Linked DNA regions of Homo sapiens: region 2 is linked to region 1. The links come from fine-mapping of genetic effects on gene expression. Tissue or cell type: whole blood. Region 1 holds a variant in brackets; the other region holds the start of a gene. All regions are shown on one strand. Distances are between the middles of the regions.

Region 1 (8,182 bases):
GTCAGCTTCAAGTTGTACAGAAGTGTACAGCAGTGTCCACACACAGGCATTTTGCTAGGGCTTAAAATCTTGGAAGCAGACACAAACGGTACATTTCAATTCCCTTTGAGTGCATTCCTCTCTCTGCCTGACAGATGACAAGTTATTACTCCACCTATCCTTTCTCCTGAACTCTTCTTTCAGTCAGGACCGTCTACTGTTCTATGTTTGTAAGACTAAGGGAATGAGATGGGGGAAGTAAACTTTCATTTCAAAATAAGAAAAGAGAGTCCTGCTACCAAGAACTATTTAACTGAGTTCAAAACTGGATACAAATTAACTTCAGAATACTTAAGAAACAATGTCAGGCTGGTGCGATGGCTCACGCCTGTAATCCCAACACTTTAGGAGGCCAAGGTGGGCAGATCACGGATCATGAGGCCAGGAGTCCAAGATAAGCCTGGCCAACATGGTGAAACCCTATCTCTACTAAAAATACAAAAATTAGCCGGGCGTGGTGGCACGCACCCGTGATCCCAGCTACTCTGGAGGCTGAGGCAGAGGAATTGCTTAAACCTGGTGGGGGCGGTGAGGAAGGTTGTGGTGAGCAGATATTGCACCACTGCACTCCAGCCTGGGCAACAGAGCAAGATTCCGTCACCAGGGTTTGGGCGGGGGGAGGAGAATGTTAAGTTCCTTCGTGTTCTACAATTCCAAGATATTTAGTATCAACTGTAAAATGTTATCATATTAAATAAAACAGGTAATAGGAGATCAAATAAAGATACTATTGAAATGTAAACAAAGTTGTTTCCTTAAAGAGAAAAGTTTGGGTACTGAATTTAATAAAATTATTGAACTCCAAGAGGAATGAAAATTATAACATTTGGGTTGAGGAACCCAAAGTAAATGTAACTTAATGAAAGTAGGTAGTGTTTTTTTCTGCATGTGGCACACAACTGAAGTGTTTTACTATCTTAGGTCATCAAAGACTTTGTGCCTTCAGGATGCTTCCCACCTGGTAAAGACAGCTCAATGTGTTATGATTCAATAAATTCTGCATAAAGCTGATTAAGGGTGACTATGAAGAACTGCTACTGAAAGGGATCAGAAGGAACAAGAATGTTTGTCTCACTTTCATAACAGATTGGAGTCCACTCCCAACTCCTTCTCGGCACTTTTTGGGCTAAATTAACAGTTGGTGAATAACAGAACTCACCTTTTAATTTCTAACACAGCGGGTTGCTCAATTTCACTGTATGCACTAATAATTTTAGCCTTATATTTGATTCTGTGTACAATTTTTAGTCCAACAAATACTGATGGCTCGAAAATGCCATGGAGTATATGCTTTTAATTTCATTAATTCTTTCACTCATTTATTTATTCAGCAAATATTTAACTGCACACCTAACCACATGCTATAAGTACTGTACTAGGCAGTGAAATTCAAAGAAAAAAAAGTCCCTTCTCTCAATAAACTCTGCCCAACAGAGGGCAAACAATCACAACTGAAGGTGGTCAGTGCCACAACGAAAGTACGCACTGGACACAGGAGGGGTGGGGCAAACAGTACCAAGAACAATGCTGAGAGACGTCAGAAAAAGGCTCCTAAAGGTAATCCTGGAGGCAAGTTGTATTTTAACAAGTTGAGAAGTAAAAGGCTATGTGAAGACATAACAAAATAAGGCATAACTCAAAGAGCTACAAAGATCTCATTATTAGTGTAGCTTGAAGCATGATGGGTTAAAGAAATTAGGAAGGAAAAGTGTACTGAGACTACACTCTGGGACTGTACTAGGTAATAAAAATTCTAAAGTACCATAAGATGGAGCCCCTGATCGCGAGGAGGTTACAGTGTAGAGGAAGAAAAAGACCCTCAAACAGTTCATTTCAATAAGGTTGGTGTCATAGTGGAAGAACACATAGGGAAACATGGCTAGACAGGCACAAAGGAGTGCCTTATACATCACACAAAGATGTTAAAAATTTTATCCTATAGTCAACAGACAGTCACTGAAAATTTTGAAATGGATAGTAATTACAACAGTGGCAGTGGATGATGGATTGGAAGGTATAAAGACTAGGGCAAGAAGGAGGCTTCTGCCAAAGCCCAGGCAAGTATGTGATGAACCTGAACAAGGCCATCCTACTGTGGCAACTTTACAATGTTTTTTTTCTAGCCAAGTGAATGGGGATTCTCTCTAATCTATCATTAAAAGAAGAAAAGGAAAAATCCAGAGTGAAATTTTCTGAAACTCCTTAAAGGCTTAGCAAAAAGTTACATAAAAAAAATTTTTTTTAACCTTCCTTGGAAAAAATCAGTAATGAGTTTAAAATTTAGTACAGATAATCTTAAGTCCAATAAGCAAATTGTGAAATATCAAACTGATGGAAAATGGTATATGCATTTTAAATGACTACATATAAAAATCTGAGAAACTTAAAATATGACTAGAAAGGCAGAATAAATATCATATGTGCAGTAAGATACTGTATAGTATGCAGTATATGCTGACAAGCTAAAAGAAAAAATGAAAGGTAAAATAATTTCTATTATTTTTATTGTTTTTTACAATAATAGAATAAAATGAAATGAAAAAAACCAACACAAGAATAATGTTTATTGTATTCGATGGGCCTGACCCACATGAGTTACACCCGATTTTTAGTTCTTGGTTTCCTAGAATGGTTTTTACAAATGGTCTTCCTGCCTAACTGCAATATTATCAAAATACAAAATAATTGATACTTTGGCTTAAGAGAGATCCTTAAAATTTCTATTATGAATAGTTATCTCCTTCCTGACTGATAGAAGGTAAAGGCAAATTCAAAAAGCTAATAGGACTCAAAGTCAAAGAACACAGGAGAAAAAAATATACATAAATAATTTTCGCATGTGTGTTTCTCTAGACTATTTCAGAGAAAAGAAATCTGTGGAAAATGGCTGTACCACCAAAAGACTTTTTAAAGCCATTTTAAAACAATTCAGTCGACAAACACATCATTTATTGAGCATCTATAAACCAAGCACTTTACTCTGAAAACACAAAAGAAAATAAAATATATAGTTCCTGCCCTCAAGGAGCTCACAGTCTAAAAGGAGAGAAAGAATGGTTACAAATAATTGCAATAAAGTATGGTGAGTCCTCTAACAGAAGTATGTAAAAGATACTACGATAAGCAAAGAAGACAGGTAGAGTGAGAAAAGTCAAGGTGGCTTTCATAAGGGAGTTAAGTCTTTAATGAGCTATAGGAAGGGAAAGAAGACTTCAATAGCACATCCAAGGAAATGTTAAATATGAAAGAAGGTGAATGAGGGTAATTTTCGTAGTCCCTATGGTACACAGAGTGAAGGGAAGAGCAAAAATAAATGACGTTAAAGGAGAAAGCGGGAACAAATTACAAAGAACCTAATATTCATACTAGAGAATATGACTATTATTGAATTCTATCAAATCTAAACTGCCATCAATTAAAAGACACAACATTACTATATATACCATAAGAAAGAAAAAAGCTTTATGCTTGTGTGTTAATATTAGTATAGAATGCTACTGAATAAAGATACATTACCAAAGGGCTATGCCCTCAGTGTAAGATTAAAGAAATAAATTAGCCATGCAGAAAGGGAAAGCAAAGAATTTTGTATTTCTCAACTTGCCCTTAGGTAGAAAGGAGAAGCAAAAAATCTTCCTGAGAACTGAACCTTGAGCAGATCTGCAGCCTAAATTAAAGCTAATACTGTGGTCCAAAAACAAATGAACAAAACAAACAAGCAAAAACTTTAACGTGGTCTCCGGTTGGTAGTGTCCCCAAATGCCTGG[C/T]AGAAACAAATGAAAATTCTCTTTAGAAGAACAAGACTTCAATCCTGAACAACAGCAATTTAAGATGCAATTTCACTGCAAAGATGAAAACAGTGCATCTCAGAATCAATGAAAAGCAGTCAATCTTATAGTCAGTCTTAAAGCTGGTGATGTTTCAGAATCACACAGGGAACTCTTTAAAAATACAAATCACCAGACTTCACACCCAGAGATTCTCATACAGGTAGGTTGTCAGACAGGTGGATACTTCAGCTAGGCCGGATGTTGAGCCTTGGGATCTCTATTTTAACAAGCTATCCAACATTTCTTTTTTACACACCTGACAAGATAACAAGACACTAGCATCTGTCTGTGGAATCAGCTGAAAAATCCTACTCTAGAAGTTCTTTTGGAGAGAAGCTAGATTAGAAGAGTATAGGGACAGGAGATACAGGACAGTAAATATAACAGGAGATTGTTAAAAGTCTTCACGCTAGAGGTGGTGATCATTTAAATACTAACAGTGGGAGAAAAGTAAGAGTATTAAGGAGGCAGAACTACACAGAATTCTTTAATAAAAACTATATGAAAGTAAAGGCATTAGATTTGATTCTGAAAAATTTCAGAAGACTACTCCTGGGCATTAGGGCCACTGGACCTTTAAAAGTAAATCTCAGGTGGGCGCGGTAGCTCACACCTGTAATCCCAGCACTCTGGGAGGCCGAGGTGGGTGGATCAACTGAGGTCAGGAGTTTGAGACCGGCCTGGCCAACAAGACGAAATCCCATCTCTACTAAAAATACAAACATCAGCTGGGTGTGGTGGCACACGCCTGTAATCCCAACTACTCAGTAGGCTGAAGCAGGAGAATCACTTAAACCCAGAAGGCAGAGGTTGCAGTGAGCCAAGATCATGCCACTGCACTCCAGCCTGGGTAACAGAGAGACTCTGTCTCAAAGAAAAAAAAAAAGGAAATCTCATTTGGGTATAGTAATCCACCACCTTTTAGCTATGTAATAAAGTATAAGTGCTATACAAAATCCTATACTACATAAATATCAAATGTTCCAAATGTTACTTAAAACTCAAAATGATTTCCAAATTCAGATGTAAGCACAGAGGGATTTTATTCTTTAATGTTTAACATATCTATTAATCAGTGTGTATGAATTAAAAAATCAGAATTTCTTTAGACAAAAGAAAAGATTTCCACTGGTTGATAAATTTAAAGTACAAACAGAAAACAATGAATTAACAAACTTACGCTGAATATGAATGAACTGTTTTGGCTGTTTAAACTCTCCTTTGTACAAGCGATTGTAATAGTTGACGTTGCTCTCTGCCTCAGGAACAGGAATGACCATACTCTCTTTTTTTTCTCTAAACACTTGCTGTGCTGAAATTGCTCGCTGTAAATGATGTTCCTGGAAAATGTAAAGTAGGCAACATAAGTTGTTTTAGTAATATTAATCAATGCATAATTTTATATAAAAGTTACTTTGTTTAATAATCACAAAGTGCTTTAAGAATCAATTATAAATAGTTCCTTTGCCAAAGACCTACAGTTACATTGTCATCATTCTCTCTTAATACTCGTGGCTCATACTGATAACACCTTAGATTATTACAATTTTTGTAAGTAGAATTTTTTAAACAAAATTAAATATATACTCAGAAACTAGAATATAAAATTTCAATTACAAAAAATTAATCTGTTTGCTAGATTAATTGAGGTGTTTGTCACCACTACCAGATGAAAGAAAAATTCCAAATTACAGGAAATAAATTTGTATCACAGATTTTAAGTATCTTCTGCATTTATTACTTCAAACTTTAACAGTACAAAATTCTGAATATTTCAAAGAAAGATAAAATTATGTTCAACAAGTTTTATTACTACCAGGGCAGAAAATATTTTTAAATAAAGGTTAAATGAACAGTTCCTATAACATATATCCAGTTTCTAATCACTTCATTACTTCCACAACTTACTGAAATAGCCTCCTAAATAGAATTTTCCCTCCTTCCTCCCTTCCCCCACAATGGCCCATTCCCAATAAAACAGTTTTACCTTTTGGAAGGTAAATCGTGTCATGCCACCCACCCCATAAAGGATTTCTGATCTCCATCCTATTCAGAGTAAAGGTTAAAAATCACTCAATGGCTGGGTGGTGGCTCATGCCTGTAATCCCAGCACTTTGGGAGGCCAAGATGGGCGGATCAAAAGGTCAGGAGATCGAAACCATCCTGGCTAACACAGTGAAACCCCGACTCTACTAAAAATACAAAAAAAATTAGCCGGGCGTAGTGGCGGGTGCCTCTAGTCCCAGCTACTCAGGAGGCTGAGGCAGGAGAATGGCGTGAACCCAGGAGGCAGAGGTTACAGTGAGCCGAGATCCGCCACTGGACTCCAGCCTGGGCGACACAGCGAGACTCCGTCTCAAAAAAAAAAAAAATTTCACTCAATGACCTACAAGACTCTGCATCTCTCTTATCTCATTTCCAACCTCTCTCCTCTCCAATCTTTAATTCTAGCCACACTGATGTTGCTGTTTCTATATATCCAAACGGTCTGCTTTCAAAATTGCTTCCAGTCTTATCTTAGCAGAGAGGCCTTCCGTGACTTTTTTTTCTAATCTAAAAGAGTACTCCTCCTCTAGCATTCCTTCCCTGTTTTACTTTCCTCCATACCTTTCCTGTTTTACTTTCCTCCATACCACTTTGCAACATCATAGTAAAGATCTCATTTGTTTACTGCCCCTCTCCCCCTAGCATAAAGTAAGTTCCAAGGAGGCAATGATTTTTGCTTGTTTTGTTAATTTCTTATCCCTAATGCCTAGTACAATGGCCAAAATATAGAAGCTGCTTAACATACATTAACTGAATGAATAAATGAAATCTTTACTGGATTCCTACTATATGTCAAGCTATGCAAAATGCATATAAAGAAACTGAGGCATAAGGATGTTTTGTAAGTTGTTGAGGTCAAACAGTTCTAAGTAACAAAACAGAAACACAATTCAGGATATACATATATATGCAAAGCCAAAATTCTTTTTTTAAAATTTTATTATTATTATACTTTAAGTTTTAGGGCACATGTGTACAATGTGCAGGTTTGTTACATATGTATACATGTGCCATGTTGGTGTGCTGCACCCATTAACTCATCATTTAGCATTAGGTATATCTCCTAATGCTATCCGTCCCCCCTCCCCCCATCCCACAACAGGCCCTGGTGTGTGTGATGTTCCCCTTCCTGTGTCCATGTGTTCTCACTGTTCAATTCCCACCTATGAGTGAGCACATGTGGTGTTTGATTTTTTGCCCTTGCAATAGTTTGCTGAGAATGATGGTTTCCAGCTTCATCCATGTCCCTACAAAGGACATGAGCTCATCATTTTTTATGGCTGCATAGTATTCCATGGTGCATATGTGCCACATTTTCTTAATCCAGTCTATCATTGTTGGACATTTGGGTTGGTTCCAAGTCTTGCAAAGCCAAAATTCTTAATCCTAAGATATTACACCATTTTTTTGGAAATTAGAAGGTCTTAATTTCATTCAAGCCTTTAGGGTATGTGAAATGTTATTATACAAAAGGAATTAGTGCAGTGATCCAAAAAGAAAAGTTTCGTTCAGCAAGACATAAATAAAATTAAACTGAAGGTCCATTCTATGCAAAATACACAGTAGATTAGTTTGATTATAACTAGTACTTTAAAAGGAAGGTAAGATGATAGAGGGGGATAGATACCAAATAATAAGAAAATAATTAATTTCATGATCTTCTGCCAGTAATTACCGTTAAAGAAAGCAGAGAGACAGAGACATAAAAACAAACGGGAAAGAAAAGAAATACAATATGAGGAAGTGGGCAAACAAGCTTCTATGCCATAGACAAGTGAACAGTAAGCCAGGGCAGCTATTGGGACTCCCACAAGCAGCATCGTTTTGTCAGATCCAATCAAGTCATACCTGCTTTTCCCCAAATAATCATCTATACTACATCATAGTCAGCATCTCTTTGGCATTTTGTCAGAATAAGTTAAATCAAGAAAGCATATTTAAGAAAAATGCCATGAAATTTGGCTAAGGAACAGAAGTCTAGGAATAGCTAAGTAAACTTAAAAAGCAGCAGAAAATGTGGCATGAGAACGGAGACCTGCCTACTAGAAATCACAAAATATTATAAAGCCACATTTTCTGCTCCTTTTTAAGCTCACTAAGTGCCACTCTAGTGAACACACAAATAATAACGAAGCAAAACAGCCTTATTGGTGAGACAGAGAAAGTTTCAGTGGTCTGGTCAGTGGTCAATGTCAAACCAGCCACAACATTCCCGTAAGCCAAAGCCTAATCCAGGGCAAGGCATTTCAATTCTATGAAGGCTGAGA
Region 2 (8,182 bases), 46 kb after region 1:
GCTCTTAGCAGAGGACAATGATAATAAGGATAGGGAAGAAAAGAAGTAAAAGATGTTTGGATGTCCAAAAGAAGAGGCTACACAGGATGACATGATTATCAATGATACAATGTTACCAATGCCCAAGAACACCTAAATCACCTCATCCAGGCATTGTCAGAATGTAACTCAGTCAGAATGTAACTCGAACTTGAATAATGACTTTGTTTATATAAACGAAGTCTAATGATAGTCCAATAGCTACACAGAAGAGACAGGCCTTAATTTTAAGGGTGGGTGGGGATAGAGGGGGAATGGGAAAAAGCCATCCATGAAGGCTTCAAAAGATTTTGCCAACCAAGCAGGACAGCACAGTTCAGAGACACCCAGCAACAATTGTGAATCCGTAAGCCAAGGTTGGTTTGTTTGTTACAAGCCTACTGATTTAAAAGAAAAAAATCTTATAAAAATAAGGAGTTAAGGACATCTAGATATTGAAAGTTACTTAAAATGCAATTCAAGTGAAACACAAAACATTTGTGAAATGTATGACATTTTACTGCTGCTTAGAAATATTTATCAAGGCAGAACCATTTTTATAAATACATAATTCTGTTTAATAACAGAAGTCCTGTAAGACCAGAGAAATGAATTTGCTGTCACTCATGAAAACACAAGTCTTCTGACATACATATTTAAAAAAGAAAGAAAAAGAAAAACTAATACTCCAATTGGACACTCTGGGAAGCAAAAGATTTCAGACTATAAATCTTAACTGTTACGGTTTGCTTAATTTTGATTTTAAGAATCTCCACTTTTAGCATGTATTAAAGAGGCAGAAAGGACAGGACAAAGAATCAGAGGTTCTGGGTTTCAACTCTAGTTTTATCAGAATTTGGATTTCTTCTTCCTTAAAATTGGGCAATTGAAGTAGGCTACTGAAAAGTATCCAAGTTTAGCACTCATGCTCTAGTTTGAAAATAATTCTTTCTAAAAGAGCTAATAAAAAAATTGCAAGGCGCGGCAGGGCACGGTGGCTCACGCCTGCAATCCCAGCACTTCGGGAGGCCGAGGCAGGTGGAGCAAGAGTCAAGAGATCGAAATCATTTTGGCCAACACGGTGAAACCTCGTCTCTACTAAAAATACAAAAATTAGCTGGGCATAGTGGCACGTGCCTGTAGTCCCAACTACTTGAGAGGCTGAGGCAGGAGAATCACTTGAACCCGGGAGGCGAAGGTTGCAGTGAGCTGAGATCGCGCCACTGCACTCCAGCCTGGCGACAGAGCTAGACTCGGTAATAAATTAAAAAAAAAAAAAAAAAAAAAAAAAAAGTCTGCAAGGCGCGGCCAGGCGCAGTGGCTCACACCTGTAATCCCAGAAATTTGGGAGGCCGAGGCGGGTGATCACCTGAGGTCAGGAGTCTGAGACCAGCCTGGCCAATATGGTGAAACCCCGACTCTACTAAAAATACAAAAATTAGCTGGGCGAGGTAGTGGGCGCCTATAATCTCAGCTGCTCGGGAGGCTGAGGCAGGAAAATCACCTGAACCTGGTAGGCGGAGGTTGCAGTGAGCCGAGATCGCGCCATTGCAATCAAGCCTGGGCGACAAGAGCTAAACTCCATCTCAAAAAACAAATAAACAAAAAATTGCAACACGAGTTAAGCACTTTTATTTTTAATGAAGCATGAAAAAATTACTCTAAGTTATCTTACTAAATTAAAATACCAAAACATATGTGGCATACTAAGGACCACGTATGTTGGTGATTGCAAAAAGTAATATACCTTCCAGGAGTTAACTGTTCACTCTAGAACAGATTTCCTTTTTTTTGTTGTTGGGGGGGACGGAGTCTCGCTCTGTCCCCCAGGCTGGAGTGCAGTGGCACGATCTCTGCTCACTGCAACCTCTTTCTCCCGGGTTCAAGCAATTCTTCTGCCTCAGCCTCCCGAGTAGCTGGTATTACAGGCGCGCACCACCAGGCCCGGCTAATTTTTGTATTTTTAGTGGAGACGGAGTTTCACCATACTGGCCAGGCTGGTCTCGAACTCCTGACCTCATGATCCGCCCACCTCGGCCTTCCAAAGTGCTGGGATTACAGGCGTGACCCACCGTGCCCGGCCTAGAACAGATTTGACTCAAGTTCTAAAATAATAGGATCAAAGTAATTACACACAATACTGGTACTTTTAAGGCCATCTTTCTTTGGATCAAGACCCACAAAATAGCAAAAATATCCAAAGTTGTGCTTATTAGGGTTCAATGTAATTAACTATTGTATATAATATGATTTTATTTTAATTTTCCTTCCCATGGAAAACTGAGTCGTTAGAAACAAATTAAAAAAAAAAGTTCTCACATACAAAAAAAAAAGTTCTCACAGCTCTAAACCTTAGGGATAAATGCTGGGTTTTGATTATAAACATATTTATATATATGCACACACAAATATATATGTGTATGTGCGTGTATATATATCTATTACATATTTGTGTGTGTACACACACAGTTAAGTTCATCCCGATGCTACGGCCATATGCATTTTCTACTGAAAATGTAAGACTTTCAAGTAACTATACATCAAAGAGAAATGTGATTAAATAAGAGCAAAGTAGTATTAACAGGGTAACATAATGAGGTCAGAACTCAACCAGCCAATCGAAGGCATAAAAGCATTTCCTGCAATATTAATAGTCAAAAGAGAAAACCAATCACTGAAACCTCGAGCTTCCTTTTGACAGTCACTGAAGCAAGAGAACCAATCCACACACACCCGAGGTTGACAATAAGGCGGGACTGTAGGTTCATTGAAGAAATTCTTGAGGGTGCAGTTACTATGAACTTCGCACGCAAGTAACACCACTCGAGTCATAAACACTCTCTGTCAAGCCAGATGAAATCCAACCGTCTGCAAAATTTAACCCATCGGAGGAAAAGCAGCAATTTTCCCAAAAGGTGCTGTATTATCAAAATTACAACTGCCAATTTAGATGCACTAGGTCCTCAACTTCTAAGGACCACCTCGCAATGACAATTCTCGAGGACAACGCAACGCCGGCGGCTCGCTTCCGGGCATCCCCGGCTCCTCTCTAACGTTGCGCACGGAGCACGGCCGTCCAGGCGGAGCAGGCAGAGCCCGTCCGCCCCGCGCCCGGCTCGGGTCGGCAGAACTGGCCGGCGGGCGGCCCTCGGACGCTACGACCCGCTCGGTAGTCGTGGCCCCCGCCCTCCCCCGCCGCAGTGCTGCACCGCCTCATCCCGCTGCACCTTCGCGGGCGGGGGAGCCAGGATGATTACATTGCTGGGAGGAAGATGTTTGTTTTGAAAGCACCCTTCCACAGTCATTTCAAAGAGAACTCAATACAAAGCCAAAGTTAAAAGTGGAAAAAATAATAATCTTGCCTAGCCAAATAATACCACGCCATTAATTAGCCCCGCGCCTGAGAGAGGGAGGTGGAAAGGTAAACAGAGACCGTACGCCAAGAGCGGCCAGCGCATCCCCTGCGCCATTCCCGGCCGCCGCTTACGGCAAGGCCCCCTTACGGCAGCGTAAGCAGCGCTGCGAGCTAATCACAACACTGGGACGCAACAACATGGCGGCCGCGGGCGGGCGCTACGCCGGCCGAGAGGGTTTACGCTACTCCGCCGGCGTAGAGTCCCGTGCGTTAGAGCGGCAGCGGCGCCCTCCAGCGAGCGTAAAGCGCTCTGTGAATGGCGAGGCCCGACTGACAAAGGGGAGGGGGGAGGAGGGAAGGGGGGGTAATAAACACTCGAGTCCCTACCGATTCCTCCTCCTTCTCCATCCCGGTGGGCATCTGGGGCACGGCCCGGTTGATGGAGACGCAGTCGTTGAGATCAGGCATGTCCTTGCCGCGGTAGATAGGCAGCGGCTTGGCGGCGTCCAGCGCCCGCGCTCGGAAGGAGAGTTTACTCATTGTCTCCCCGCCTTACAGGAACAGCCCGGGCGGCGGCGGCGGGGCGGGCGGGGAGGGGGGGAGGACTCCCGCCGCCTCCTCCACCTCCTTCCTCAGTGCAGCGCGGCCGGCCCGCTCCTCCTCCTCCTCACTGCCCCCGGCCACAGCATGGGCGCCCACCCCGCCCGAAAACAGCCCCCCGCGCCCGCGGCCGCCTCCACACACTAGATCCGCCGCTCGCCCGCCCGATCCGCTCCCTGCGCCATGGCCAACATGGCGGACATTACCACAGCGGCGGCGAGCGATCCCGGCAGCCCGCGCGAGAGCGCGCCCCCGTCGCGGGAACGCGCCTCGCCCTCTCCCTCCCTCCCTCCTTCCTCTCCCTTCCCCTCCCTCGCCTGCCCACCCACTCTCTCCGCGGCGCTGCCGGCCCGCGGGAGCGTGCTCGGTCTCGGTCCGCTCCGGGGAGAGGGGGCGGGGGCGGCGCCCCTCCGCTCGCTGGCCGGTGCTTTCGCTGTGTGGCAGGTGCCAGGTGCGCAAGTTCGCCCGCGCCCGGGAGCGTGCGCCTCTCCCGCCGCCGCCCGGTCACCCCTCTCGCTGGGTGTCCCGGAGGAAGGCGCCGGGCAAAGACGGCTGCGCCGAGCAGCGCGTGTGTGCAGAAGTCCGGGAGCGGGAAGGGAAAATGTCGACCCGGACCCCACCAGCCATCACCCAAGCCTGTACTTGGACAGCGCTATCCCCAAGGCGCCCTGTGCGCAAGCTAATTCGCATCCTCCGAGGCGCACATCCCCGAGAGGTGCAAGAGGTCTCTCCCATCAGTCCCATCAGTCCGTTCGGAGGACTGGACCGCGCTGCTGGTGCCAGCCCTCTTCTACGCCCTCCCCTCCGTACCTGTCCGAAAGAGCTCTCCAAGGTGCAGCAGCGCGTTCATCCTCGCTTTGCAGTGAGGGTTCATGGTTTGAGGCTGCCAGATGCAACAAGTGAACTTAGGTTCCCTGTCACCCAAACTTCGGTACAGCTGTTTAGTGGATGGTAGGTATTTTTCTGAGTTCAAAAATAGTAGCTTTCCTAAAAGTTCAGCTTCTAAAAATTTAGCCAAGGCAGCACACATTTGCGAAGTAGCAGATGTGTGTCAAATGTGGGGTGCTGTGGAAGACTCGAAGAAATCTGAGAAAAGGTTCCTGCCTCAGAGAGCTTTCACCTTAATGGGATGCCAGGATGGCTGGAAAGATGAGTAACAGAGACGTAAATAGTTGAAGAAAATGACAGCTGGAAAGATAAGTGACAACCGAAAAAAAAGTGTAAATATTTTAAGAAAACAATACAAGAGATGACACAGGCAGTAAGTAGCACATGATTAATTACCAAACGAGATCTAGGCAATAATTGTGAGAGTTCAGAGAAAGGAAAGGAGGCATGACTGCAGCCTAAACTGGTTAGAGAAAGTTCTCAAGAGGAGGGAAAATCAAGGTGACTCAAATAAGTACTAGCTATTGTTGACATCAACCTGGTTTAGCCAAGAGGCTCTTGGTTAGTCTTTAAGCATTACACATTTCTCACAAAACCGTACAAAGAGAGTTTTTAACACATTTTACCATTTTCTAATAATCGATCATACTCTAACTCAGAGAAAGTCAGATGATTTCCTAAAGACCAACAGTGAAAAAATTGATTCCTACTGTCATTTCTATGTGACAATAAAACTATATCTCTTCCTCTATTACGTCCTTCTTCCCCTCCTCCACTTCCTCCCCTCCCCCTTTTTCCTCCTGTTCCTCTTCCCCTTTTCTCTCTGCAGTCTCCTCCTTTGAAGGCAGAATGGTGGATATAGTCTTCATGGTAGTGTCCAAATAGTCTAACCAGTCTGTCGCAGCAAAACTCCGAGTATTGTTTAGTGGGGCTTGAGTGTTTTTCATCCACTTTGTTGTTGGAAGCAATGGAGTTGCTGTGACTCATTTCTTGTAAGCAGTACCTTCCTCAAGCTTATGGGCATGTCCTGCTCTCTAAGTGCTACCCCTGGAACAGTTCCAATCCTCTGGAAGCAAGAACAAGAAGTTCTTGGGAGGGGGTCAGCACTGGGTTCAAGCCTGAAAGGGAAGAAAAAAGCAATAGTTGAAGAAATGAGTCATCCAGAGCTTTCATCTGGATGCCCAGCCCTCCTCAGGTTCAGAAAGGATAGCTTTCTTCTAGTCCCTATGTTTAGTTTTACTGTTTCTCTCAGAAAAGGAAATATCAAGTATGTGTAATATACCATCCATTGTAGTAACATGTTATATATATTATCTCAACTAGTTGAATTCCACTTAATTCTTATTATAATTTTATGAAAAAATATAATTTTACCAATAAGAAAACTGAGCATCAGATAATTTGCCAAATTTCAATTCCAACAACTTGCAGAACTGGGCTCAAATTCAGGTCTGACCTGACTCCAAAACTCTGGTTTTCTCAGTGGTGCTACCCTGCTATCCAAGCTCTTCAGCTTATTGACCAGTCAGCATTCTAAAGCTGCTAATTCAAAATTAGTTACTAAGACCTTCCAACCAACGGCCAAGGGAGCGCATAAGCCAGAGCCTAAAGTTGCAGTAGACCAAGGAGGGCAGGAACAACATCTGTCTGTCAATCACTGTATCCCCAGTTCCATGCCTCACATATGGCAGGCATCTAAAGTATATTTGTTGACTGATATTCCATGAAGAAATTCACTGATACTGACCCCATGCCACTCTAGTTTATAGTTCACATACCTCACTGGCCTGTCACCTGACCTAGCTATTGCTGCCAATATTTGTTCTTACTGTGGCCTACCCTGTTGTCCAGCTTTGTACCTTTGTGCATAGAGATTTTAGAACCAATTAATGTTATTCAAAAACACCTTTTTGAAACCTGGAATTTATAGGAAGGGATTTTTGCTGTTGTGGTTGTTTCTTTGTTGTTCTTTTACTTTGACCATGTAAAAGATTTCTTCCCCAAATCTCCATTTTCTTCTCACCCTGTAGGCAATGATTATAGAGCTGGGAATAAAACCATTTAAGGCAAATAACACAATATACTTTTCAACGGAGACACAGCCTGTGTTTTCTTGGCTTCCAATTCAGTGCCCAAACCGGAATGCCACTGTTCACTTTTGGAAAGTAACTTTTATTTGTATATAAATATTACTTTTCATAAAGTTTATTTCTGATTGATTTGTTGAATACTCATATAATTGTTAGTGCTAAAAGCAAAAAATATCTTCTTATAAAATAAAAAATTCTCTCATGAAATATTTTTATCAAGACCTGCCTCAAATGGGTGTGCAGCCTAATAGCCTATTTTAATTTCCACATACAATGCGCTAAGTATAGTCATTCTAAAATCAGTCCACTTCAGATATGCTCTAGACCAATTCCAAATGACATGCATTTAGCCCAGCAAGCATAATATATAAGCACCCAAGAATTAAAACCAGTTTAAAGCCATATCAAAATAAAATCACTGTCTAAATGTAGTCTAAATTAGAATAAATGTCAAATAACTGTTAGAATTAGGATTACATTCCAGTGTCCATCTCCCAGTACTATAATCAAGGCAGGCAGCTTCCAAATAATGGACAAATTACTTTTTGAAAGGAATCTTAAAACTAGTAAACACAGTTGCTATTCAACTATTTCAGAGTTTTGCAAATGTCACGTTCTTTCTAATTGGCTCCTGGTTTCAGCAAAACCATTTGAAAGTTAATTGGGTTAGTATGTGAACTGCATCTCCACCCCTCCCCCTTATGTTCCCAGGAATGAGCCTAGTACTAATAAAGCTTCGTTGTTTTCCATATGTAATCTGAATGTGGGGTCTGCATTCATTACAATCAACTGGAATCAGTTCTGTGGTTCCAGTGCCCTTTTCTGAGGCAGCTCTGCATCTTTGAGACATAGGGACAGAGACTACACTGAGAGGTGACCTGCCAAACATCTACTTCTACCTCTGCATTTGCCACCGTGGGAATAGCAGATGGTAAATAAAAATTTGTGACTGTGGCTCAGTTTCTTAGCAGCATCGCTCCTCTCAGACCTGGTTGGAATCACAGGGTGCCACCTTGTGTATAAGCTGACGATTTACTTCCCAGCTCCACAAAGGATCCAAATAGACTCCAAAATAATCAGCCTGAAAGCTCTGCATTTTGGTAACTAAAAAAAAAAGAAACAGATTTGAAAACACACAGCTCCAGAGGGTCCACAACACCCAATTTTGAATTGCACTGACAGCCTGTCTCATTTGTTGCCCCACCCGGACCGTAAAACACAACCAGTGCTC

What was found. PIP is the estimated chance that this variant, and not a neighbour inherited with it, causes the effect.
Region 2: EPC2 starts here. The variant in region 1 is fine-mapped to the expression of EPC2 in whole blood (TOPMed, PIP above 0.99).

What each region holds. Positions count from the first base shown.
Region 1 is chr2:148,687,241-148,695,422 of GRCh38, reverse strand. EPC2 (enhancer of polycomb 2) reads right to left here. Exons shown (of 14, transcript NM_015630.4): 2 at 5,050-5,209. Among named protein-coding and RNA genes, the nearest start is that of EPC2, 47 kb to the right of the region's middle. The variant C/T (reference allele first, on the strand shown) is at 3,807.
Region 2 is chr2:148,640,749-148,648,930 of GRCh38, reverse strand. EPC2 (enhancer of polycomb 2) reads right to left here and starts at 4,180. Exons shown (of 14, transcript NM_015630.4): 1 at 3,761-4,180. The coding sequence starts at 3,913. RefSeq lists enhancers at 2,857-3,006, 3,603-4,107 and silencers at 3,097-3,186, 3,947-4,526.